Regions from separate parts of the Homo sapiens genome. Here region 2 is linked to region 1. The links come from fine-mapping of genetic effects on gene expression. A gene starts in region 1. The other region holds a variant in brackets. All regions are shown on one strand. Distances are from middle to middle.

The links. PIP is the estimated chance that this variant, and not a neighbour inherited with it, causes the effect.
Region 2: its variant is fine-mapped to the expression of NUCB1 in esophagus mucosa (GTEx, PIP above 0.99).

Annotation. Positions count from the first base shown.
Region 1 is chr19:48,894,825-48,905,251 of GRCh38, forward strand. NUCB1 (nucleobindin 1) reads left to right here and starts at 5,488. Exons shown (of 13, transcript NM_006184.6): 1 at 5,488-5,548; 2 at 5,962-6,107; 3 at 9,523-9,630. The coding sequence starts at 5,973. TULP2 (TUB like protein 2) reads right to left here and starts at 3,920. Exons shown (of 13, transcript NM_003323.3): 1 at 3,766-3,920; 2 at 3,013-3,045; 3 at 2,521-2,572; 4 at 1,606-1,732; 5 at 542-679; 6 at 174-338. The coding sequence starts at 3,044. RefSeq lists enhancers at 52-867, 3,315-4,130, a silencer at 1,294-1,433 and a cis regulatory region at 3,665-4,664.
Region 2 is chr19:48,921,999-48,932,534 of GRCh38, forward strand. NUCB1 (nucleobindin 1) reads left to right here. Exons shown (of 13, transcript NM_006184.6): 13 at 320-1,374. The coding sequence ends at 426. Among named protein-coding and RNA genes, the nearest start is that of DHDH, 6.4 kb to the right of the region's middle. RefSeq lists an enhancer at 738-1,237 and a silencer at 4,914-5,208. The variant G/T (reference allele first, on the strand shown) is at 3,493.

The DNA of each region.
Region 1 (10,427 bases):
CTGCAGATACCGAGGGGCGACCGTGTACTGGAAACCATGGAATTGTGAACTTTAAATGGGTGACTTGTATGGTTTGTGAATTATACTTCAGTGAAGCTGCTGCCTAAGAAAGGGGAAGATTTGCTGCATGAACCAGGAGATCCCAGGTTTCACCCCAATGTCCCCTAAATTACCAGGTCGTTGGTGGGCTTGCCAACCCTTGCGTCGGATTCTCGGAGACTGTTTAAAAGGTGGGGGAGAGACGGAACCATTCTCCACGGAGACTTCCTCCAATTCTGCATCGGAATTGTCTGGGAGCCAGGATAAGAAAGGGGACTGGAGACCGAGATTCCTGAACACTGAGGAAGGAAGGAGGGGAGAGTTGGATTTCTGGATGCTGCAGGAGGAGGCGGCTCAGGACCTGAACTCCTTGGTGTGAGGAAGGAGTGGGTGCGGTCCTGAGCTCCTGAGTATTTTGGACAGATGGATTGAGGCACCAGACTCCTGGGTTTTAGTGGGGACGGAGTTCTGGGGTCTAGGAGGTCGGTGGACTCGCAAATACCTGCTTCTGTCCGCGGTGTCGGGAGGCCGCGCTCGCCCCTGCCGTCTCCACCACAGCTCACGGTGCCCAGGGCACTGTGGATGCCAGAGGGCAGATGTGCCTCTGACACTTTCTTCCGGAGGAAAGGGTTCCCAAGGCCTGGGAGAAGGTTCAGCGAGCCCATGAAAACGATCTACAAATTCCGGTCCTCAACCAAAATCCACCCCGTCACTGGGCTCCCAAATATCACCCCCGCCAGGCGCCGTGGCTCACGCCTGTAATCCCAGCACTTTGGGAGGCCGAGGCAGGCGGATCACCTGAGGTCGGGAGTTCGAGACCAGCCTGACCAACATGGAGAAACACCGTCTCTACTAAAAACACAAAATTAGCCGGGCTTGGTGGCGCATGCCTGTAATCACAGCTACTCGGGAGGCTGAGGCAGGAGAATCGCTTGAACCCGGGAGACGGAGGTTGCGGTGAGCCGATATCCTGCCATTGTACTCCAGCTTTGGCAACAAGAGCTAAACTCCGTCTCAAAAAAGAAAAAAAAATCACCCTGTTTCGCGGACCGCCCAAACCTTGAGACCCAGGTCCCAAACTGCATCCTAAGCCTCAAACAAGCACAGCCCTGCCGCTGGATTGTTGCGGGCTCCGCACGTAAAGAATCTCGCGCCAGGCTCTCGTAATGAGACCGCGCCCCGCCCCGGACCCCTAGACCCCGTCTCCGCAATCCCGGGTTTGGGGTGGGGGTCCCGGCTTTCCCAGGCTCCACCACCGAGCTCTGCCAAGCCCAATCATCACATTCTCTTGCCCCTTTCCCCTGCTAGTTGTACCATGCCCCGCCCCTGCGCTCTGTAGCCCTGCCCCGAACCCCTCCCTCACAGGTCCTGCCGCGGGGGGCCCCCACAAGCCTCTCCCCTGGGCGCCCACAGGCCCTGTTCTAAAGCTCTCCTGGGCCAAGGCCCGCCCCCATCCACTGCCAAGTCCCCACCCTAAGGCTCCACCCCTTCATCCACTAGGCCCCGCCCACAGACTCCCACAGGCCCCTCCCCTCCAGGCGAACGCCCCCAGGGGTCTTTGGTCACCTCTGTCACCTAAAAGGCGCTCCTCCCGCAGACAAGAGCGCCAAAGCCACGGGGAAGCGTCAGGATTGGCCTGAACCATGAGGAGCTCCTGGCGCTTCTGTCGCTGCTTCTTTTCAAACAGCCGCCGCTGGGGAGATGGGAGAGGTGGGTGTCCGGGACAGGAACCAGATGGGAAGACAGAAGTGAGGTGGGGCCTGGGGCAAGGGCTCGCATCGGCGCGAGAGTTCGTGAACCCCTTCCTCCACTGGGGCCCACACGTCCAGGCCCTCAGTTCTTCAGCAGCTCCTCCCTTATTCCACCGTTGGACTCAGATCCAAGAGTCCTGACACCCTGTCCTCTCATCCCCCAGGACCCAGGAGTCCTGCCTTCTAGAAGCCTTGTTCCTTAGAAATTCATCACAAGGGTTTGTTTGCTTCTTTAGAACCCCCAATTCCTATTTTCTTTTCTTTTTCCTTTCTTACTTTTTTTTTTTCTTTTTGAGACAGAGTCTGGCTCTATCGCCCAGGCTGGAGTGCAGTACCACGATCTCCGCTCACTGCAGCCTCCGCCTCCCGGATTCAAACGATTCTCCTGCCTCAGCCTCCCGAGTAGCTGGGATTACAGGCGCCTGCCACCACACCTGGCTAATTTTTTGTGTGTTAGTAGAGACGGGGTTTCGCCGTGTTGGCCAGGCTTGTCTTGAACTCCTGACCTCAAGTGATCCGCCCACCTCAGCATCCCAAAGTGCTGTGATTACAGCCGTGAGCTGCCCTGCCCGGCCCCAAATTCCTATTTTCTCATTTCTCAGTGGGAAAACTCAAGGATGAGAGACAGCCAACACGGGCTGGGAGTCCTAGAGCAAGACCTGGTGGAGAGGCCCCTGGGGAGGCACAGAAGGCGGAAGAGTTGGAGTGGTGAGATTCCTGGGCACAATACCTGCTGTTCCAGCTTCTGCAGCCTCATAGCAGCGAGCTCATGCCCCAGGATGCTGAGAGAGACACAGGCCCATGGTGACAGTGCACAGGGAACCTCGGTTGCCCAAGAGAGTCCCTCCTTCCCCCATCCTGCCCCTATCTCAGCTTGGGTTCTGGGCACCTGTGAGGTCACAGGAGGTGCAGAACCTGAGCCTGCTCCACCAGTTATAGGGCCCTTTCTCCTGGCACTGGCCCACAGAAGCCGGGACCCAGAGATCCCAGGTCCCTCCTGTCTCAGGATTCAGGAGTCTGGGGCCCCCAACCCCTTCTCTTTCAGACCCAGAAGTCTGCACCCTAGCCCCATCCCTTCAGGACACAGGAGTCCAGGTCCCCAGCCCCTTCCTGCAAGGCCGATGGTGCTGAACCTGCAAACATGGTTATGAAGCCAGAGCCGAGTGCACGGGGTCCCCAGCCCTTTCCACCTCCACCCCTACCCATCTGTTTCCCTACTCACTCTCTCATCAATGTGTCATTATCCTGAGACATTCTGCAGAAGCAAGAATGAGGAGTCAGGATCAGAACCAACATCCCAATGGATCCTGCCCACCAGCACCTAATCTTTAGCCTTATTTATTTATTTATTTATTTATTTATTTATGTATTTAGAGACAGCTGAGCCTCGCTCTGTCGCCCAGGCTGCAGTGCAGTGGCGCCATCTCGGCCACTGCAACCTCCACCTCCTGGGTTCAAGCGATTCTCCTGCCTCAGCCTCCCGAGTAGCTGGGACTACAGGCGTCCGCTATTCTGCCTAATTTTTTTGTATTTTAGTAGATACCGGTTTTCACTATGTTGGCCAGGCTGGTGCCGGACTCCTGACCTCAGGTGATCTGCCCGCCTTGGCCTTCCAAAGTGCTAGGATTACAGGCATGAGCCACAGTGCCCGGCCTGATCCTTACCTTTAAATTTGCTTCCGGACCCAGGCAGCCCGAATCCCAGCACCCACTCCTGTCGGGATCTAGTAGCCTGTTTCCAGCTTCCCACGGGGGTCCGCAAGTCCGCTTCTCTCTCCCCCAAATATCTAATTCTCCAGCACCCAGGCATCAGAACTCAGGACTGTGCACTTCAAACACCCAGCCCCCAGCGGCCTAGAACTCCACTGCCCACCTGCCTGGGATCCGGGAGACTTGTTCTCCTCACCAGGTGCCTGGAGAGGCTGCTCACATTGATGCCTCGGTACCTTGCCTCTCTGGCCAATCTCTAAACATACCTGATCCTCTCTTTGGAAGCTGGGGACCTAATCTCGGGATATCTGCGAAATAGGGAGGAGAAGAAAGACGGCTCAGAGGGAGGGAGGATTCCCTCTGGGACCTGAACTGGTCCACTCCCTTCTGACCCTCCACTCTCCACTTCCAACAAAGTAACGAACTCGGTCACTGATGCAGCCAGGCAACCCTGCTCCGGGGGTTCTGAACACGAATGCCGTGTGGGGGTTCCTTAAAGAGACCAGAGACCGGCCCGGCGCGGTGGCTCACGCCTGTAATCCCAGCACTTTGGGAGGCCGAGGCGGGCGGATCACGGGGTCAGGAGATCTAGACCATCCTGGCTAACATGGTGAATCCCCGTCTCTACTAAAAAAAAATATATATATATACACAAAAAAATTAGCCGGGCGTTGTGGCGGGCGGGCGCCTGTAGTCCCAGCTACTCGGGAGGCTGAGGCAGGAGAATGGCGTGAACCCGGGAGGCGGAGCTCGCAGTGAGCTGAGATCGCGCCACTGCACTCCAGCCTGTGTGACAGAGGTAGACACCGTCTCAAAAAAAAAAAAAAAAAGAGAGAGAGAGAGCGGGAGACCAGAGACCTCGCGGCCTCACTGTACACATCTCGCTTACAAGAAACTTAAAAGAGGCGGGGCGCAGTGGCTCACGCCTGTAATCCCAGCACTTTGGGAGGCGGAGACGGGGAGGCAAGATTGCTTGAGTCCAGGAGATCCAGATCCAGACCAGCAACACAGAGATTTTTTTTTTTTTTTGAGACGTAGTCTCACTCTGTCGCCCAGGCTGGAGTGCAGTGGCGCGATCTCGGCTCACTGCAACCTCCGCCTCCCGGGTTTAAGAGATTGTCCTGCCTCAGCTTCCTGAGTAGCTGGGATTACAGGCATGCGCAACCACGCCTGGCTAATTTGTATTTTTAGTGGAGGCGAGGTTTCTCCATGTTGGCCAGGCTGGTCTCAAACCCTTGACCTCAGGTGATCTGCCTGCCTCAGCCTCCCAAAGTGCTGGGATTACAGGAGTGAACCCCCAAGCCCGGCTTGACATCCGTCTCTTTAAAAAACAACAACAACAAAGTGTGAGAAGTGTGAAAGACAGAACGTTAAAAAAAAAAAAAGGCTAAAAAAGAATTAAAGATTTAAATATTTGTATTAAAAATTTAAAAAATATACATTAGCCAGGCATGGTAGTGTGGCCTGTGGTCCCATCTACTTGGGAGGCTGACGCGGGAGGATTGCTTGGGCCTGGGAGGTAGAGGCTGCAGTGAGAAGTGATTGCGCCACTGCACTCCAACCTGGGTGACAGAGCAAACCCTGTCTCGAATAATAAGAAGAAGAAGAAAGAAACTCATAAGAAAGGCTATGCAATTGCTACCGCGCTATAACTTCCAGGCACTTCGTGGGGCGAAAATAAATGGGAAAACTACAGCTCCCATGAGGCGAAGGGGCCACGATGCCCGCGGAAGTTATTTTTCCCCCGGCCGGCAGGGAGTTGTAGTTATCTTTGAAAGCCTTCTCTCTCTTTTGGCATAGGCGGGAAATGTGGCGTCAAGAGGCTGGGATTCCGAGAAAGAAGCGAGGCTTTCACGAAAATGCGAGCGGCTTCGGCAAGGGGCGGGGCCGCTGGACGTGGATGAAAGCTACAGAGCCAGCGTGGACCAATCAGACCTCTTTGGGGCGGGGCCTCTGTGGATAAGTGGGCGTGGTCTAGGGGGGAAGTCACCAAGAACGCACCGGAGGTCCTTGCCCGCCCTGGAAAACGCCCTCTGCGGTGAAGGAGAGGTGAGAGGCCAGGGTTCCCATACTCTTGGGTCCTAGGGAGGATGGGGGCCAGAGGGCTGGAAAACTGGGTCCCGGAGGAGGATGCACTGGGTGCCAGTACTTTAGGTCCTGGGAAAAGAGGAGGCTGGGACCCTGGACTCTTGGGTCTGGGGGAGGAGGCGGCCGAGATCCCGGATTCCTGAGTGTGAGAGAGGAGCGTGTTGGGAGCCAGGACCCCTGGGTCTGAGGGCCCAGACTCCTGTGTCGGAGGAAGGGAAGGCCGGAGGCCTGGAATCCTGGGGCCTGGGTAACAAAATGCTTGTGTCTTGATTCTTGGAAGTGGGGGCGGCGCTGGGGGCCCGAACTCCTGGTTCCAGGGGAGGAAGAGGCTTGGGACAGACATTATGCATTATCCAGCCCTCCATCCCCCACAGACCACACTGCCATGCCTCCCTCTGGGCCCCGAGGAACCCTCCTTCTGTTGCCGCTGCTGCTGCTGCTCCTGCTTCGCGCCGTGCTGGCTGTCCCCCTGGAGCGAGGGGCGCCCAACAAGGAGGAGACCCCTGCGACTGAGAGTCCCGTGAGTGGCCCTGCCCTGCTATCCAGCCAGGTGTTTGCAGTGGTACTACAGCTCCTGCAGACCCCGGTGCCCGTAGGGCGGATGCTCCAGTGACTTCCTGGCCCTACAGTTGTAGCTTGTTTTTTGCCCACCATTCCTCCCAGCAGCAGGGGTTTGACTTGGTGAAAAACTGGAGGTCCCTGACTCTGAGGTGTGGAAAATCTGCATCACGCCCCAACTAAACGTCTGTTTTTTTAAGATTCTCTCCACCCAAGAAGGAATTTGAAAACAAACAAACAAAACTACATTTCCCAGTAGCACCATGTTGCTAGTTCCCAGTAGCAGTTGATGTTGGCTAGCTGGGGTATTCTGACTTCATGGTGCTCTTGGGAGTTGTAGTTTAAATTACAGAAGGGCGGGTGAACTGCTTGTTTATTAATTCCTACATGTGTTTATCAAACCCAATAAAAGCTTTGGTCTTAAGGGATTTGGAACTTTGGAGATCCTGAAGGTCAGTGAGTGTCTTGTGGTCCGAATCTTCCTATAGCTCCCCATAAGGATAGGCTGGTCAGGCCAGGCGCAGTGGCTCATGCCTGTAATCCTAGCACTTTGGGAGGCCGAGACAGGCGGATCACTTGAGGTCAGGAGTTCAAGACCAGCCTGGCCAACATGGCAAAACCCCATCTCTACCAAAAATGCAGAAATTAGCTGGGCGTGGTGGCTCACGCCTATAATCCCAGCTACTCTGGGAGGCTGAGGCACGAATTCTCGTGCTGGAACCAAGAGAGGTGGAGGTTGCAGTGAGCCAAGGTCACGCCATTGCACTCCAGCCTGGGCAACAGAGCTGAGACTCTGTTTTCTGAGACTGTCTCAAAAAACAAAGAATGGGCTAGTCATTACCCCCTGGAACGGATCATTGCATGTTCCTGGTCCCCACGCTGCAAGTTAGGCCTCTATTCTGTGAAATCCTTGCAGACCCAGGAAGGCTTTGTTGAGTCCCATTTCTTTTCTTCCATTCCACATGTTTCCTGAGCACCTTCTATGAGCCGGGCATAGTGTTGCCTATGTGTTGCATAGTTGTTAGGGCCCAGCCATGTGCATGCCCCATGCCCATGGACTATCCCTGCTCACTGGGAGATGGAAGACAAAGGGCAGGGCTCTATGAGAGTGAACACCAGGGGTGACAGTCAGGGAGGAAGGGAGGCGTGAGTTGAGTTCTTTCTTTCTTTCTCGCTCTGTCACCAGGCTGGAGTGCAGTGGTGCAATCTTGGCTCACTGCAACCTCTGCCTCCCAGGTTCAGGTGATTCTCCTGCCTCAGCCTCCCGAGTAGCTGGGACTACAGGCGCACACCACCACGCCCATCTAATTTTTGTATTTTTAGTAGAGACGGAGTTTCACCATGTTGGCCAGGATGGTCTCGATCTCTTGACCTCTTGATCTGCCTGCCTCGGCCTCCCAAAGTGGTGGGATTACAGGCATGAGCCACCTCATTTTTTCTTTTCCTTTTTCTTTTTTTTTTTTTTTTTTATTTTTGCTGTGTCACCCAAGCTGGAGTGCAGTGGTGCAATCACTGCAATCTCCATCTCCCAGACTCAAGCGATCCTCCTGCCTCAGCCTCTGGAGTAGCTGGGACTGCAGGCATGTGCCACCATGCCTAGCTAATTTTTTTTGTATTTTTGATAGAGACAGGGTGTCATTATACTGCCCAGGCTAGTCTCGAACTCCTGAGTTCAAGTGATTTGCCCGCCTCGGCCTCCCAAAGTGCTGGGATAATAGGTGTGAGCCACTGAGTTCTGAACTGGAGAGATATGTTAAGTCAAGAGCAAGGAAGAGAGGAAGTGAGGGGAAGAGCATTCCAGGCAGAGGGAACAGCATGAGCAAAGGCCACTTGGTAGGAGAAAGCAGAGCAAGTTGAGGACGTCAAGGAGGCTGCTGTGGCTGGAGCAGGGAGAGTGAGAGGGAGGGGAGAGGGGGATTATGTGGATCATGTGGGATCTTGTGAGACTAGGTAAAGAGGTAAAGAATGTATATATATATATATATGTTTAATAGACAGGGTCTTGTGCTGGTGCCCAGGCTGAAGCGCAGTGGCAGGATCATACCTCACTGCAGCCTTGAACTCCTGGGCTCAAGTGATCCTCCTACCTCAGCCTCCCAAAGCACTGGGATTACAGGCATGAGCTACCATGCCTGGCCTTCTCTCTTTTGTAATTTTATTTATTTATTTTTTCCAACTTATCTTATTTGCTTTTCACCACAACTCTGGGAGGCAGAGGATATATTGCCTATTTTATAAATAGTAAGAGCATAGAAGGCCCAGGGAGAGTAAAGTCCCACCCAGCTACGCATGACGGGGGTGGGACTAGGAGGCCTGGGACTTTTGTCTGTGTTGTTCACAGTGCCTGGCATATGATAGGGGCCTGGTGAATGTTTGTTGAATGAATGAATGCATGCATGGGCGGGTGGGTAGATGGATGGGCAGTTGGATGGATGGGCGGGTGGATGGATGGGTGGGTGGATGAGTGGATGGATGGATGGATGGGTGGTTGGATGGATGGGCGGGTGGATGGATGGGCGGGTGGATGGATGGGTGGGTGGATGAGTGGATGGATGGATGGGTGGGTGGATGGATCGATGGGTGGGTGGATGGATGGATGAGTGGATGGATGGGCGGGTGGATGGATGGGTGGGTGGATGAGTGGATGGATGGATGGACGGGTGGTTGGATGGATGGGCGGGTGGATGGATGGGTGGGTGGATGAGTGGATGGATGGATGGGTGGGTGGATGGATGGATGGGTGGGTGGATGGATGGATGAGTGGATGGATGGGCGGGTGGATGGATGGGTGGGTGGATGAGTGGATGGATGGATGGATAGATGGATGGATGGATGGATAGGTGGGTGGATGGATGGGCAGGTGGATGAGTGGATGGATGGATGGATGAGTGGATGGATGGATGGATGGATGGATGGGTGGGTGGATGGATGGATGGGTGGATGGATGGATGGATGGGTGGGTGGGTGGATGGATGGATGAGTGGATGGATGGGTGGATGGATGGATGGATGATGGGTGGATAGATGGGTGGGTAGGATGTATGTATGGATGGGTGGGTGGGATGTATGGATGGATGGGTGGGTGGATGCATGGATGAATGGGTGGATGCATGGATGGATGGATGGTTGGATGGATGGATAAAAGTATGATTCACAGCTTCCCAACAAGTCATGTCCACTCTGAGCACCCACTCTGGGCAGTATTGGGCTGGGTGTTCACTGATGTGATTTTCATTTCATCTTTGCTGCATATGTGGGAAAAGGTAAAAACTGAGTCCCTTGTCAGCTGCCCCAGGGAGCAGGCCATAGCAGTAACAGGAGTGAGGGTGGGGATGGGGATGGGAGCAGGGGCTGCTATGTCTGTCCTTGTTGCCTCAGGACACAGGCCTGTACTACCACCGGTACCTCCAGGAGGTCATCGATGTACTGGAGACGGATGGGCATTTCCGAGAGAAGCTGCAGGCTGCCAATGCGGAGGACATCAAGGTGCGGCTGGGGGAGTGGGGGCTGTGGGAGGGGTACGTGCTGGGAGGGCAGAGTTCAGGGGAGGACTGGTTTCTTTTTTTTTTTTTTTGAGACGGAGTCTTGCTCTGTCACCCAGGCTGGAGTGCGATGGTGCGATCTCAGCTCACTGCACCTCCACCCCGCAGGTTCAAGCAGTTCTCCTGCCTCAACCTCCCAAGTAGCTGGGATTACAGGCGTACACCACCATGCCTGACTAATTTTTGTATTTTTAGTAGAGACGGGGTTTCACCATGTTGGCCAGGCTGGTCTCGAACTCCTGACCTCGTGATCCTCCCATCTCGGCTTCCCAAAGTGTTGGGATTACAGGCATGAGCCACCATGCCTGACCATACTGGTTTCTTCAAAGGGGCCACATGGCTCCAGCTGTGCCTGTATTTGAAAATCACCAAAGTAAGACTCAGGGAGAAGTTGCTTCTTGGGGTCACAAGCTGGGAAGAGCTTTGGGGAACACAGAATACGTGTTTAGTGCAGAGTCCCGTGGGCAGGCTTTCAGTCGCAGCTCCGCCGCTTACCAGCTATGGGGCCTCCCCTCACCGTGCCTCAGTTTCCCCACCTGTAAAATGGGAGACATCATAGAACCTGCTGCACAGTTCGGATTTGGATTTTCCAAGGGAAGGATTTTGGGGTTTGGATTTTCCAAAGGAAGATGTGTAAAGGGTTTGGAAGAGCATGGTGACACTCCTTAGCAAGTGTTGTGGGAGGGCTGCGTCAACAGAATGCTCCTATGGTGCCTTCTACAGAGGAAGAATTCAAAATAA
Region 2 (10,536 bases), 27 kb after region 1:
TGGGCCTGGACTCCCAGATCTGAGGGAAGAGGGACTGGGGGCCCAGACTCCCAGATCTGAGGGAAGAGGGACTGGGGGTCCGGACTCCTGGGTCTGAGGGAGGAGGGGCTGGGGGCTGGGACCCCTGGGTGTGAGGGAGGAGGGGCTGGGACCCCTGGGTGTGAGTGAGGAGGGGCTGGGGGCTGGACCCCTGGGTGTGAGGGAGGAGGGGCTGGGGGCTGGACCCCTGGGTGTGAGGGAGGAGGGGCTGGGCCTCTGGGGTCCTGGGGGAGGAGGGGTTCGGATGTCCTGTGCCACCATTCCCTCCCTCCATTTCCAGACGATGTACCTGTCCCAGCTCCAGCCGGTGACCAGAAGGAGGTGGACACTTCAGAAAAGAAACTTCTCGAGCGGCTCCCTGAGGTTGAGGTGCCCCAGCATCTGTGATCCTCCGGGACCCCAGCCCTCAGGATTCCTGATGCTCCAAGGCGACTGATGGGCGCTGGATGAAGTGGCACAGTCAGCTTCCCTGGGGGCTGGTGTCATGTTGGGCTCCTGGGGCGGGGGCACGGCCTGGCATTTCACGCATTGCTGCCACCCCAGGTCCACCTGTCTCCACTTTCACAGCCTCCAAGTCTGTGGCTCTTCCCTTCTGTCCTCCGAGGGGCTTGCCTTCTCTCGTGTCCAGTGAGGTGCTCAGTGATCGGCTTAACTTAGAGAAGCCCGCCCCCTCCCCTTCTCCGTCTGTCCCAAGAGGGTCTGCTCTGAGCCTGCGTTCCTAGGTGGCTCGGCCTCAGCTGCCTGGGTTGTGGCCGCCCTAGCATCCTGTATGCCCACAGCTACTGGAATCCCCGCTGCTGCTCCGGGCCAAGCTTCTGGTTGATTAATGAGGGCATGGGGTGGTCCCTCAAGACCTTCCCCTACCTTTTGTGGAACCAGTGATGCCTCAAAGACAGTGTCCCCTCCACAGCTGGGTGCCAGGGGCAGGGGATCCTCAGTATAGCCGGTGAACCCTGATACCAGGAGCCTGGGCCTCCCTGAACCCCTGGCTTCCAGCCATCTCATCGCCAGCCTCCTCCTGGACCTCTTGGCCCCCAGCCCCTTCCCCACACAGCCCCAGAAGGGTCCCAGAGCTGACCCCACTCCAGGACCTAGGCCCAGCCCCTCAGCCTCATCTGGAGCCCCTGAAGACCAGTCCCACCCACCTTTCTGGCCTCATCTGACACTGCTCCGCATCCTGCTGTGTGTCCTGTTCCATGTTCCGGTTCCATCCAAATACACTTTCTGGAACAAATGCATGGCTCCATGCCTGTGTATCTGGACTGGTCCCTCCAAAACGCTATTGCCACGTCACCTGCCGGAGTCCTCATCTTTGAAGACTGGATTCAAGCATCACTTCTGAGAGGCTCAATCCTGGTATTTTTCCATCTGCCCCTGATGAGTCTGCAGCCTTCACTCAGGGTCCCTTCAGCCACAAGGACAGAAAACCCAAACCTGGGATTAAGCAATTTTTTTTTTTTTTTTTTTTGAGATGGAGTCTTACTCTGTCACCCAGGCTGGAGGGCAGTGGTGTAATCTCAGCTCACTGCAACCTCTGCCTTTTGGGATCAAGCGATTCTCCTGCCTCCGCCTCCCGAGTAGCTGGGATTACAGCTGCCTGCCACCACGCCCGGCCTTCTAATTTTTGCATTGTTTTAGTAGTGATGGGGGTTTCACCATATTGGCCAGGCTGGTCTTGAACTCCTGACATCATGATCTGCCCACCTTAGCCTCCCAAAGTGCTGGGATTACAGGAGTGAGCCACTGCACCTGGCCGGGATTAAGCAACTTTTAAAAGATGAATTTGGCCAGGTGCTGTGGCTCACGCCTGTAATCCCAACACTTCGAAAGGCCAAGATAGGGGGGATCACTTGAGGCCAGGAGTTCAAGACCAGCCTGGTCAACATGGCAAAACCCCATCTCTACTAAAAATACAAAGATGAGCCGGGTGTGGTGGTGGGCACTTGTAATCCCAGCTACTCGGGAGGCTGAGGCAAGAGAATTGCTTGATCCTGGGAGGCGGAGGTTGCAGCGAGCCAAGATTGCACCACTGCACTCCAACCGGAGTACCAGAGCAAGATTCCATCTCAAAAAAAAAAAAAAGAATGTACCAGGTATGGTGGCTCCACCTGTAGTCCCAGCACTTTAGAAGGCAGAGGCGGATAGATCACGAGGTCAGGAGATGGAGACCATCCCGGCTAACACGGTGAAACCCTTTCTCTACTAAAAATACTAAAAAAATTAGCTGGGCGTGGTGGCAGGCACCTGTAGTCCCAGCTACTCAGGAGGCTGAGGCAGGAGAATTGCTTGAACCCAGGAGGCAGAGGTTGCAGTGAGCCGAGATCATGCCACTGCACTCCAGCCTGGGTGACAGAGCGAGACTCTGTCTGAAAAAAAGAAGGCTGAGGCAAGAGGATCACTTGAGCTTAGGAGTTTGAGACCAGCCTGGGCAACATAGCGAGACCCCGTCTCAGAAAAAGAAAAAAAATTAGCTGGGCATGGTAGTGTGTGCCTGTAGTCTCAGCTGCTTAGGAGGCTGGTGTGGGAGGATCCCTTGAGCCCTGGAGTTTGAGGCTGCAGTGAGCCATGATCTATCACTCCACTGCACTCCAGGCTGGGTGACAGAATGAGGCCCTGTCTCTAATAGAAAAAAGAATAAATAAAAATGAATTATGATAAAAACCAAGATGTCCCAAGGCAGGATGACTTCAGGGAACCAGGTTCTCGCATCCCCTAGCTGTGCCAAGGATAGGTTTGGGGGCTGGACCCCCCCTCATGGTCCCAAGGTAGCTGCAGCTGCTCCAGATGTCACCAACAGCCAGTGAAGGAAGAGGCCGCATTCTGTTCTGGGCATTGTTAAGTGGGAGAAAATCTGTCCCCAGAGTTCCCTCTCCTTTCAGCCCTCTCCTCATGTTCCCTTATATCCCACTGGCTGTGAGGCACAGGTCAGTGACAGCTGCAGACAGATCCACCAAGCTGGCATCCACCAGTGGTGATTTCATCCTCACCTGGGATGGGGATGCTTTCCTTGGACCAAGTTGGGGTCTGGTAAAAAGCAAGCGGGGAATATTTGTTTTTGTTTTGTTTTGTTTTTGGAGACAGAGTCTTGCTCTGTCTCCCAGGCTGGAGTACGATGACGCGATCTCGGTTTACTGCAACCTCTGCCTCCTGGGTTCAAGCGATTCTCCTGCCTCAGTCTCCTGAGTAGCTGGGATTACAGGTGCCCAGCACACACCCGGCTAATTTTTCTGTATTTTTAGTAGAGATGGGGCTTTCACCATGTTGGTCAGGCTGGTCTTGAGAACTCCTGACCTCAGGTGATCCCCCCGCCTCGGCCTCCCACAGTGTTGGGATTACAGGCCTGAGCCACCACGCCCGGCCAGGAGTATTTGTTTAAATGAAATTCTGGCCAGGCACAGTGGTTCATGCCTATAAGCTCAGCACTTTGGAGGCCAGGGATGGGCAGGGTGGGGG[G/T]TTTCAGGAGAGGATGACAGGAGGATGACTCAAGCTCAGAGCTCAAGACCAGCCTGAGCAACATAGCAAGACCTCATCTCTAAAAAAAAAAAAAAAAAAAAAAAAAAAATTAGCCGGGTGTTGTGGCATGCACCTGTGGTCCCAGCTACTCAGGAGGCTTAAGGACAGAAGAATCGCTTGGCCACAGAAGGTTAAGGCTACAGTGAGCCATGACCACGCCACTGCACTCCAGCCTGGGAGACAGGGCAAGACCCTTTCTCGAGAAAAATAAATAGGCCGGGCACAGTGGCTGATGCCTATAATCCCAACGCTTCAGGAGGCCAAGGAGGAAGGATCCTTTGAGCCCAGGAGTTTGAGGCCAACCTGGGCAATATAGGGAGACCCCATCTCTATGTAAAAAAATAAATAAATAGGGCCAGGCGCAGTCACTCACAACTATAATCCCAGCACTTTGGGAGGCTGATGTGGGCGGATCACTTGAGGGCAGGAATTCAAGCCCAGCCTGGGCAACGTGAAACCCCGTCTCTACAAAAAAATACCAAAATTAGCCGGGCGTGGTGGTGTACACCTGTAATCCCAGCTACTCAGGGAGGCTGAGGCACAAGAATCACTTGAACCTGGGAGGCAGAGGTTGCAGTGAGCCAAGATCACACTACTGTACTCCAGCCTGGGTGACAGAGCAAGACTCCATCTCAAGAAAAAAAAAAAAATTAGCTGGGTGTGGTGGCACATGCCTGTAGTCCCAGCTACTTGGGAGGCTGAGGTGAAAGGATCGCTTGGGCCTGGGAAGCGGTGATTGCAACGCTGCACATCAGCCTGGGTGACCAAGCGGGACTCTGTCTCAGAACAAAACAAAACAAAAATACATATTCCCAGATCCTGGAATGTCCTGGGAAGCTATATGTGTGTCATGCCCTCCCAGCTGCACCTGAACAATGAGCATAGCAAACATCAGCTGCAGCCTCTCTTTGCCTCTCTCAGAAAATGAGGGGAGTTGAGCTTCAGTGACCCAATCTGGAAAACGGGCCTAAATGGTGTTCTTTGAAAGGTTCATATAGGCAAAGCGGTCCCCAAATGCCGAAGGAGCCAAGAAACCAAAGAATGAGGCCGACCCATCTAGTTTGTCAATACAGGGTGGTTTATTAGGGGGAAACTTAGAGTGTGGTCTTCGCCAGGCATGGTGGCTTATGCCTGGAATCCCAGCACTTTGGGAGGCCGAGGCAGGTGGCTCACTTGGGGTCAGGAGTTCGAGACCAGCCTGACTGACATGGTGAAACTTGTCTCCACTAAAAATACAAAAATTAGCCAGGTGTGGTGGTGGGCGCCTGTAATCCCAGCTACTGGAGAGGTTGAGGCAGGAGAATCACTTGAACCCGGGAGGTGGAGACTGCAGTGAGCCGAGCTCACGCCACTGCACTCCAGCCTGGGCTACAAAGCAAGACCCTGTCTGGAAAAAAAAAAAAAAGAAGTGTGGTCTTGGGCAGCAGCAAGACAGATAGATCACACCCTGCAACCCCCAGACACAGGGCTTCTATCTCGAGGAAAGCATATCTGTGCTCTGGAAGAAACGCGTAGGTGGCTATGGGCGATACATCTTGTGATGGATGTGACAACATCAAGGCTTGTTCTGGAGGAAAGGCTGGTAAGTACGTGTTTCTACATAAAGAGTAACACATCCGTTAGACATGTTGGAGGCATTCCCAGTTTCGGGTTAGTCAGAAGTCACACGGCAGGCTGGGTGCAGTGGCTCATGCCTATAATGCCAGCATTTTGGGAGGCTGAGGCAGGAAGACCGTTCGAGCCCAAGAGTTTGAAACCAGCCTGAGCAACATAGTGAAACCCCGTCTCTTTTTTTTTTTTTTTGAGACAGAGTCTCACTCTTGTTGCCGGTGGCTCGATCTCGGCTCACTGCAACCTCCGCCTCCCGGGTTCAAGTGATTCTCCTGCCTCAGCCTCCTGAGTAACTGGGATTACAGGCGCCCACCACGCCCAGCTAATTTTTGTATTTTTAGTAGAGACAGGGTTTCGCCATGTTGGCCAGGCCGGTCTCAAACTCCTGTCCTCAGGTGATCTGCCCTCCTCTGCCTCCCAAAGTGCTGGGATTATAGGCATGAGCCACCACGCCCAGCCAACCCTGTTTCTTTCTTTTTCTTTTTTTTTTTTTTTTGATACGGAGTCTTGCTGTGTCCCCCAGGCTGGAGTGCAATGGCACAGTCTCGGCTCACTGCAACCTCCACCTCCCGGGTTCAAGCAATTCTCCTGCCTCAGCCTCCCAAGTAGCTGAGATTACAAACCCCGTCTCTTAAAAAAGGAAAAAAATCACATGGCAGAGTAGCATTTTAAAATAAAGTCACGAGGCTGGGCGCGGTGGCTCACGCCTGTAATCTCAGCACTTTGGGATGCTGAGGCAGGCGAATCACCCGAGGTCAGGAGTCTGAGACCAGCCTGACCTACGTTGAGAAACCCCGTCTCTACTGAAAATACAAAATTACCCGGGCCTGGTGGCGCATGCCTGTAATCCCAGCTGCTCAGGAGGCTGAGGCAGGAGAATCGCTTGAACCCAGGAGGTGGAGGTTGCGGTGAGCCGAGATCACGCCATTGCACTCCAGCCTGGACAACAAAAGCAAAACTCCGTCTTAAAAAATAAATAAATAAATAACATTAAACTACGTCACTCAGCCTGTGAACAATGGCTCACGCTTATAACCCAGCAATTTGGGAGGCCGCAGCAGGTGGATCACTTGAGGTCACGAGTTCGAGACCAGCCCGGCCAACATGGTAAAACCGCATTTCTACTAAAAATACAAAATTAGCTGGGTGTGGTGATGGGCGCCTGTAATCCCAGCTACTCATGAGGCAGGAGAATCGCTTGAACCCAGGAGGCGGAAGTTGCAGTGAGCTGAAATTGTGTCACTGCACTCCAGCCTGGGTGACAGAGCAAGACTCCGTCCAAAAAAAAAAAAAAAAAAAAAGGGACCATGTTCTAGTGTAGGGGTAAGTGGATTGTTTTGGCCCCAACCCCAAGAGGATCAAGGGAGACCACTGCAGCTGCCCGAGAAATTCTTGCCCTCTGACAAGAAACACCCTATCCAGTCTGGGGAATTTGCCAGTCCAACCCCTCCCCTTGGCTCAAGATTCTGGGAAATCCTAAATAGTGTTTACCATTGGCCTTTTATCAGCTCCAGTATAAATGCGTCTGGCCAGACTTGCTTTACAACTATGCATAATGGATAGTTGGGCCAGGCTTGGTGGCTCATGCCTAGTGCTTTGGGAGGCCGAGGTGGGAGGATCACTTCAGCCCAAGAGTTGGAGGCCAGCCTAGGCAACATGGTGAGACACCATCTCTACAAAAAAAAATTTTATTTTCTGTTTTTTTTTTGAGACGGAGTGTGGCGCTGTCACCCAGGCTGGAGCAACAGAGCCAGACTTTGTCTCAAATAAATAAATAAATAAATAAAACCTGCAAAAAAATTTTTTTAAATGCCATTTTTCTTTCTTTCTTTCTTTCTTTTTTTTTTTGAGGCAGAGTCTTGCTGTGTCACCCAGGCTGGAGTGCAGTGGCGTGATCTCGGCTCACTGCAAGCTCTGCCTCCCGGGTTCACGCCATCCTCCTGCCTCAGCCTCCTGAGTAGCTGGGACTACAGGCGCCCGCCACCATGCCCGGCTAATTTTTTGTATTTTTAGTAGAGATGGGGTTTCACTGTGTTAGCCAGGATGGTCTTGATCTCCTGTCCTCGTGATCCGACCACCTCGGCCTCCCAAAGTGCTGGGATTACAAGCGTAAGCCACCGCGCCTGGCCATTTTTCTTTTTAATCAATCCTGCCACTTGAAGATTATATGGTAAGGGAAATCTGCAGTCTATACACAATACTGAGTTGCTCCAAGCCCTTGAGGATTGTGAGGGACCCAGTGTTCTAATTCTTGCTAGAGTGTCTACCTCCATGTTACCAGAGGCGAGTCTGACCGGGTACTGACATGTGATATACCATTAAGTGTGCAGTGGGTTCTTTTAGCCTTTCCCAAATGTCTTTCCACATGGCAGCGCCCCACAGCATTTTCTTTTTCTTCTTTTTTCTTTTTCTTTTTTTTTTTTTTCTTTTTTTTCCTGGGCAACAGAGTCTCACTCTGTTGCCCGGGCTAGAGTGCAGTGGCGTGATCTCGGCTCACTGCAAGCTCTGCCTCCTGGGTTCAAGCGATTCCAGTGCCTCAGCCTCCCAAGTAGCTGGGATTACAGGTGCACACCACCACGCCCAGCTAATTTTTGTATTTTTAGTAGAGATGGGGTTTCACCCTGTTGGCCAGGCTGGTCTCAAACTCTTGACCTCAGGTGATCCGCCCGCCTCGGCCTCCCAAAGTGCTGGGATTACAGGCGTGAGCCACTACGCCCGCCCTCTTTTTTCTTTTTTGAGACAGAGTCTCACTCTGTTGCCCAGGCTGGAGTACAGAGGTGCCATCATAGCTTACTGCAGCCTCAACCTTCCCAGCTCAAGCGATCCTCCCGCTTCAGCCTCCCTAGTAGCTGGGAATACAGATGCACACCACCACACCTGGCTAATTTTTTGCAGGTTGGTCTCGAACTCTTGGGCTCAAGAGATCTGCCCGCCACAGTCTCCCAAAGTGCTGGGATTACAGGCATGTGCCACCGTGCCCGGCATATTTTCTTTTCAGTGTTTACCTTTTTGCCTCCTCTGAGGTGCTGGAGTGCAGCAATAAGAAAGTAATAATTTTAGGCCGGGCGCAGTGGCTCACGCCTGTAATCCCAGCACTTTGGGAGGCCGAGGAGGGCGGATCACGAGGTCAGGAGATCAAGACCATCCTGGCTAACACAGTGAAACCCTGTCTCTACTAAAAATACAAAAAATTAGCCAGGCGTGGTGGTGGGCGCCTGTAGTCCCAGTTACTTGGGAGGCTGAGGCAGGAGAATGGCGTGAACCCGGGAGGCAGAGCTTGCAGTGAGCTGAGATCGAACCACTGCACTCCAGCCTGGGTGACAGAGCAAACCTTCATCTCAAAAAAAAAATATATATATATATTATATATATATATTTTTTTTTTTAGACCGGGTCTTCCTCTGTTGCCCAGGCTGGGGTGCAGTGGTGTGATCTCGGCTCACTGTAACCTCTGCCTCCCAGGCTCACGCCACTCTCCTGCCTCAGCCTCCAGACTACAGGTGCCCGCCACCACGCCTGGCTAATTTTTTGTATTTTTAGTAGAGATGGGGTTTCACCGTGTTAGCCAGGATGGTCTTGATCTCCTGACCTGGTGATCCACCCATCTTGGCCTCCCAAAGTGCTGGGATTACAGGTGTGAGCCACTGTGCCTGGCCGCTGAGTAGTATTTTGTTGAATCCACTGGCAGCTTAAAGGACATTTGGGCTTGAGCTATGTACAGCTGCTAACACCTGTGCACTGGTTTGTGTGCAAACATGTTATTTTTTCTTTCTAGGACAAATACCTGGGAGTATCAAAATTATTTTTTGATATTTATTATTAAATGATTTTTTCTTTTTCTTCATAGTAATGATATTGTGTCCTATGTGGATTTCCCTCCCCCTAAACCTTTTTTTTTTTTTTTTTTTTTTTTTGAGACAGAGTCTCTCTCTGTCACCCGGGCTGGAGAGCAGTGGTGCGATCTTGGCTCACTGCAACCTCCTCCTCCCAGGTTCAAGCAATTTACCTGCCTCAGCCTCCCAAGAAGCTGGGATTGCAGGCGTCCGCCACCATGCTTGGCTAATTATTTTGTATTTTTAGTAGAGATGGGGGTTTCACCATGTTTGCCAGGCTGGTTTCGAACTCCTGACCTTAAGTGATCCGCCCACCACGGCCTCCCAAAGTGCTAGGATTACAGGCATGAGCCACTATGCCCTGCCCCCTCCCCCCACTTTTTTTTTTTGGTAGAGATGGGGTCTTGCTTTGTTGCCCAGGCTGGTCTCAAAGTCCTGGCTTCAAGCATTCCTCCCATTTGGGCCTCCCACAGTACTGGGATTACAGGCGTGAACCACCGTGCCTGGTCCCATTTGTGTTTCTATTCAGCAGTTTGTGTAAACTTGAAGTCTGTGAATCCATGTGTGACACTCAGGTCTTAATTATTGTCTACCAAGTAAGAGAAAGTGACAATATCCTGCCCTGTGTGAAGCTGGCCAGCCAGTTAGGAATTATCATGTCCCAACCAGCCTGGGAAACTTGGCAAGACCCTGCCTTGATAAAAAGTTTAAAAATCGACTGGACACAGTGTCTCATACCTATAATCCCAGCACTTTGGGAGGCTGAGGCAGGAGGATTGCTTGAGCCCAGGAATTGGAGACCAGCCTGGACAACAAAGTGAGACCTTTTCTGTACAAAAAATTGCTGGGCATGGTGGCTCATGCAGGTAATCTCAGCACTTTGGGAGGCCAAGGCAGGCGGATCACCTGAGGTCAGGAATTCGAGGCCAGCCTGGCCAACACAGTGAAACCCCATCTCTAGTAAAAATACAAAAATTAGTCGGGCGTGGTAGTGGGCGCCTGTCATCCCAGCTACTCGGGAGGCTGAGGTAGGAGAATTGCTTGAAACTGGGAGGTGGAGGTTGCAGTGAGCCAAGATTATGCCACTGCATGATCACCCCAGCCTGGATGACAGAGCGAGACTTCGTCTCAAAAACAAAAAACAAACAACAACAGCAACAAAAATTAGCAGGCTGGGTGCAGTGGCTCATGCTTGTAATCCCAGCACTTTGGGAGGCCAAGGCAGGCAAATCGCAAGGTCAGGAGATCGAGACCATCCTGGCCAACATGGTGAAACCCTGTCTCCACTAAAAATAAAAAAAATTAGCTGGGCATGGTGGAGGGCGCCTGTGGTCCCAGCTACTCAGGAGGCTGAGGCAGGAGAATCACTTGAACCAGGGAGGCGGAGGTTGCAGTGAGCTGAGATCACACCACTGCACTCCAGCCTGGGGATAGAGTGAGACTCCGTCTCAAACAAACAAACAAACAAATAGCGGTAAGTGGGGCACATGCCTATACTCCCAGCTACTCAGGAGGCTGAGGCGGGAAGATAGCTTGAGCC